2 separate regions of the Homo sapiens genome follow, and region 2 is linked to region 1. The links come from fine-mapping of genetic effects on gene expression. A gene starts in region 1. The other region holds a variant in brackets. All regions are shown on one strand. Distances are between the middles of the regions. Region 1 holds the start of SEZ6L (seizure related 6 homolog like). Region 2 overlaps SEZ6L (seizure related 6 homolog like).

Evidence for each region. PIP is the estimated chance that this variant, and not a neighbour inherited with it, causes the effect. A credible set is the group of variants that fine-mapping cannot tell apart.
Region 2: its variant is the best candidate, but not a certain one, in a credible set for the expression of SEZ6L in cerebellum (GTEx, PIP 0.75).

Annotation. Positions count from the first base shown.
Region 1 is chr22:26,167,959-26,170,458 of GRCh38, forward strand. SEZ6L (seizure related 6 homolog like) reads left to right here and starts at 1,504. Exons shown (of 17, transcript NM_021115.5): 1 at 1,504-1,805. The coding sequence starts at 1,712. LOC105372971 (a long non-coding RNA gene) reads right to left here and starts at 1,276. Exons shown (of 6, transcript NR_188586.1): 1 at 1,045-1,276. RefSeq lists a silencer at 1,527-1,656 and an enhancer at 2,483-2,500.
Region 2 is chr22:26,337,033-26,340,044 of GRCh38, forward strand. The region is part of intron 9 of SEZ6L (seizure related 6 homolog like); the gene reads left to right. Among named protein-coding and RNA genes, the nearest start is that of ASPHD2, 91 kb to the right of the region's middle. The variant T/C (reference allele first, on the strand shown) is at 1,348.

The DNA of each region.
Region 1 (2,500 bases):
CGTATAGCCACAAACAGGCAAGGTCATTCCACAGAGAGCTGGCAGCCTCATACAGTAAAGCATGGAGTGCTTCATCTTCTCCAAAGGAGAAATCAGCACTCCTGCATCCCTGCCTCAGCCACCTTCTTTATAAAAGCCAGTTGGGTTTACTGCCAGGAATGGAAACCTCTTGCAGCTGAAGATAGGATTTTATGGGGGGGCTCTCTGTCCCCCAAAGCCTGAGGCAGGTCTGGGCCTATAGTCAGTGGCCTGTAAAAGAGCATTGTTTGAGTGAGTAAATGGGGAAGCTCTGGGTGTGGAGCGTCTTCTGAAACCCTGGGCCAGAGTGCTTCTCCTTCCCTCCTCCATCCAGTGTTCACCTCCCCCACCCATTCTTTCTAGGGACTCCCGGCTCCACCACGCTGCTAAAGACATATTCCTCCCCCTGTTGCTGCCTGCAACCTTCTCTCCATCTGCTCCCTCTGCCTGTTCAGGCTGCAGTGTGTAGATAGTATGGCAAGGTAGGGTAGGGGGAGGAGGACAGCTTCTAAATTGGGTGAGAGGCCTGTAAAGCCTGACCGGTCTGCCAAGGCTACGCAGGGAGAGACAGTCAGTCTCCAGGACTGTGCATAAGCTTGTCCCCACCTAGCTCTCTGCCAATGTCTGTCCCCAAGTATCTGTTTATCTCCCTCATTGATTGTCCCTCACTACCTCTATTTGTGGAGAAAAGACTTTGCTTGAGAATCAGGCCTGGGCAAGAATGCTGCAGAGGTGGGCCTTGTAGTCCTGCTCAGATAGGGAAGCGGGTACAGGAAGAGGCAAGCGGCTGACCTGAGAGGAAGCCTCGCAGCGCTAGTGCCCTGCCGGCAGTGGGGTTATGGGAGACAGGGCTCAGATTAAAAAGTGGAGGTGGATCTTAATTTAGAGTTCGTGATTGGGCTTCAGAGGGGTCCAGACCCCCTCGTGTTAGATGCACGATTTTGTGGCTATGTGTAGTGTTCTAGTAGATTCACAGCTGTCACCAGATCCACAGAGTTACAGACTTTCTAGGTTATGGGGACTCACTTTGGAAGCAGTGAGGCCCTGGCGGGGAAGCAGGCTGGCTGGATCCCAGAGGGCTCTGGAAAGAACTGGAACTGGGATGTATCTGGAAGGCTGGGCAGGCAATGGAAAGCTCCGGGCTGCTCATAAGCTCGGTTTCCAGGGCTCCATCTCACCGTCTGGAAAATGGTCCGGGTGCTCTCCAGCCTGGCCTGGCCAGGCAGAGCTGCTGGGAGCGTCAGCAGGGAGAGAAAACGCTCGGCTCCCAGGACGCAAGGGGAATTGGCGTTAAACTTTGCAGGGCCGACGGGCCGGCGGCCAGAGGAGGCGGCTGGCACCCCCGGCGCCGCCGCGGCCCCTCCAGCTCACTGCCCGCTCGCCCGCCCCCTCCCTCCCTGCACTCGCTCGGCACAGACTCGGCCCCAGCCCCCTCCCTCCTCCCGCTCGCTCCACGCTCGTTCGCTCGCTCGCCGGCTCCTCCTCACTCGCCCGCCCGCGCCCGGCGCAGCTCGGCCAGAGCGACCGCGGGGCTGAGCGCGCGTCCGCCCAGGGGGCTCCGGAAGCTGCCCCGGCCCGCGGCCTCCTCCCTCGCTCCCGCTTCCCCTTTCTCGCTCACCGCCGCCCTCCTTCCCCAGCTCCCTCGCCGTCCGCCCGCCCCACAGCCAGCGGCTCCGCGCCCCCTGCAGCCACGATGCCCGCGGCCCGGCCGCCCGCCGCGGGACTCCGCGGGATCTCGCTGTTCCTCGCTCTGCTCCTGGGGAGCCCGGCGGCAGCGCTGGAGCGAGGTAAGCGCCCCGAGGGGCGGGGCGGGCAGGGGGCAAAGTTGCCGGGAGAGCGGGGCAGCCAGGGGTCGGGGCTGACCAGGGCGACTCAGGCACCACCCGCCGGGATGGGAAGCGGTGGTGGCTGTCCAAAATCGGGGCTAGGAACCGCACGTCCCCTTGGCCCGGGCTGATGGGAGTGTGGAGGCGGGGATGTGTTGAAGGACTCGGGCGCTTCCCTGCTTCGGCTGCGGGCTCCCTTTCGGTCTTCCCCGGCTGCGGGGCTGATTCTCCTTTGCAGCCAAAGAGGTTCTCCTTGGAGTGGGGTCGCCTCCAAACCCCAAATTCCCGGCGCTTCTCTGCAACCGCACCCGGGGCTAGGTGCCAGATAATTATCTTCCTCTCCGGGAGAGGACAGGAAGGGGGGTGAGAAGCTGACCCACCCTGCAACTGAGGACTAGACTCAAACAGTGCATTTGCCGCTCCCCCCGACACCACAGAAACCCTTGACTCCTTTGGTTCAGGCTACCCCGAGGGTCTGTGTTCCTGGATCGATCTCAGCCAAGCGTCAGGATACCGGACTTGGGTGTGGCTTTCGCTAGAGGCCGGTGGAGGGGGCTGAGGGCTCTGAGAACTTGGTAGGGGAGGGAGAAGAGATGTTAGTTAGCAGTTGGGAACCTGAACGGGCTCCCCTCTACTCTCTCCCCTACTGCCTAGCA
Region 2 (3,012 bases), 170 kb after region 1:
TGCCCAGGTGCTAATGCTGAAGCTGGAATTTGAATCCAGACCTTCTGCCTGCCTCACCTCATCCCCAGAGCTCATGACATAGACGAGGAATATTAAGGCTGATTCACAGACAAGAAATTTCAGAAAAATCACATGCCTTCCATGAAAGTGACAAAGCTGAGAATCAAACCAAAGCTTTCTGATTTCCAAGCCAGTGTGCTCTTCCCTGCACATTGCTCCATCCTATTTTATGGAGAACAAAGAGTTGCCGTATGGTTTTAAAATGAAAGCTATTTTCACCCTTGAAGATGCTGCTACTGCGTTTTGGCCATTTAAGTGAAAGAATAAAGCCAAGATGTGCATTGTCTGTAAACTACTGTTACCAGCGGATCAGCTGTGAAGTCGGCTTAAGGAATATATCTGCCATCTACCATGTTTCACACTAGTCTAATCCGGCACTTTCATGAACAATTGATGTTTTCATGGTACGTAGAGCTAAAGAGGCCCTCCCCTACTACAGGTCCAAAGCTGACATCAGTCCCACTATTTTTGCTGTCAAGTAGACTCTCTGGGAGGCTCTTTCATACCTTAGCATTTATTGAGCACCTACTGTGTGCAAGAACAAGTGGCAACTCCAGAATTTCAATACAGCAGGGGTTTAGGGGCTTCAATCTGGTTAAAAACTGTCAGGGGGGTAGGAGGAGTCTGGGGATTTTGTCTTGAAGACATGTGTGCAAAGCAAGCAGGTAGCTTTTATTTGAAGATGTTTTGGGAGTAGCATAGGGGAAACTGGTGAAAATTATGGCGGCAATCAAAATCTTCCTAAGCCACCCCTTGGAGCAACTTTACATGAGGAACTACGAGAGGTATGGTGGAAGGTATTGGGGTGAATAAAATACAATCCCTGCCCTCCCAGAAGCAAACTTTCAATACCTTTCTTTGTGTTTCTGTTGTTTTGTTCTGACCACCTGAAACACCAACATGGGTAGTTGCCACCTCACCTCCCAACTCCCGGACTAGCAGCAAACACCACTGTTGGCCATTGGATGAAGCTATCAGCAGGGAGGGCCACTGTCAGTCTGCATCAGTTTCAGGAACTCTGCTCAGGGCCATTTCCCAGAACACCTCTCCTCTGGCATTGAATTGCTCAGTCATACAGTTCCCGTATAAAACCCTTCAGTGTCTCCCCGTCTCCTGCAAGATGATGTCCAAAAGTTGAAGCTTGGCTCTTTAAGCCCTTCATGATCTAATCCCTGCAGAACTCTGCAGGCTTCTATGCCTATCCCCATACCCCAGGCACACTGACCACTGGAAAAATTCTTTCAGGAACCATGGTCTTACTCCTTTCTTCCCTCTGCCTTCTCCCCA[T/C]CATTCATTGTTTTCTTTTGTTTTGTTTTGTTTTGTGAGATGAGTTCTTGCTCTATTGCCCAGGCTGGAGTACAGTGGCACAATCATAGCTCACTGTAGCCTCAAACTTCTGGGCTCAAGCAATCCTCCTGCCTCAGCCTCCTGAGAAGCTAGGACTACAGAGGTGCACCACCACACCAAAAAAAAAAAATTTTTTTTGAGACAGGGTCTCGCTTCTTTGCCCAGGCTGGAGTGCAGTGGCACAATCTCAGCTCACTTCAACCTCCACCTCCCAGGTTCAAGCAATTCTCCTGCCTCAGCCTCCCGAGTAGCTGGAACTACAGGCATCTGCCACCACGCCCAGCTAATTTCTTTTTTTAGTAGAGACGGGGTTTCACCATGTTGGCCAGAATGGTTTCGATTTCTTGACCTCGTGATCCTCCTGCCTCGGCCTCCCAAAGTGCTGGGATTATAGGCGTGAGCCACCACGCCCGGACTTTTTTTTTTTCTTTTTTTTTTTTTTTTTGTAGAGACAGGGTCTCTCTTTGTTGCCCAGAATGGTCTTGAACTCCTGGCCTCAAGCAATCCTCCCACCTCAGCCTCCAAAAGTGCTGGGATTACAGGTGTAAGCCACTGCACCTGGACTCCCTACTCTGTGTTTATCTGCCTCGAGGTCTCCTACTCTTTCTTGAGGTTTCAGAGCAAGAAGCATCACCTACTGCAGGAATGCTTCCATGATGCCCCTAATCTGAGTTTGTCCTTACTTTCTCTGTCCTTACTTTGGTTATAACTCCTGCCACAATCCCTGGCTTACAAATCTAAATAGATCACTACTCTGTGACCCTTCTGAGCTCAGCACAGTGCCTGGCTCATAGTAGATGCTCAAAAAAACAAACAAAAAAGAACATTAAGGAGAAGGAGACAAGAAAAGGAGAAAGACATGAGAGAGAAAGAAGACAGAGAGAGGGAAAGAAGAAAGGAAAGAAAGAAATGTGAGTTTGTATCTGTCCATGATTGATGAAGCCAAAGGTGAATTATCTGGCATTCTTTCAATTAGAGATCAATTTTATCTAGCATGTCTGAGATGGCACATGTTTCTGTGGTATAGTGAAGTGATTTCTGGATTATTAACTATCCACTGTGGTTTAATTATTTAGTGTCAAGGTACTTTCTTGCATTGGAGTCTTTGAAAATGTGTCATCCTTTAACAGTATGAATGGTGACAGGTTTGAGCATATCTCATAAGTAAGGTGCCTCCATCCCACCTCTGCCCTACCCCTTAAACATAATGGATCATTCAGTTGACTCTGAGGAATTTGCCCCGTGATAAATGGAAAGATCATTTCACCTTATATAAAAATGCAAGTTGTAATTAGCAAGCTGTCAGCATGTTCTGCACTGAAGAAGAATGAAAGATGCAGGTCATAGCCCCAGCCTGTAGCCTGGTGCCTAACACAGAGATGTCACCTAAGAAATGGTTGCCAATAATGGGAGTTTTGAAGGTGATTCTTCTTACAATGCAGCATTTGACTTTGCAATGAGTCCCATGCAGCCAAGACCATTGCATCAATGTGTCTTCAAAAACCCAACTGACGGCCGGGCACAGTGACTCACGCCTGTAATCCTAGCACATTGGGAGGCCGAGGTGGGCAGATTGCCTGAGCTCAGGATTTGGAGACCAGCCTG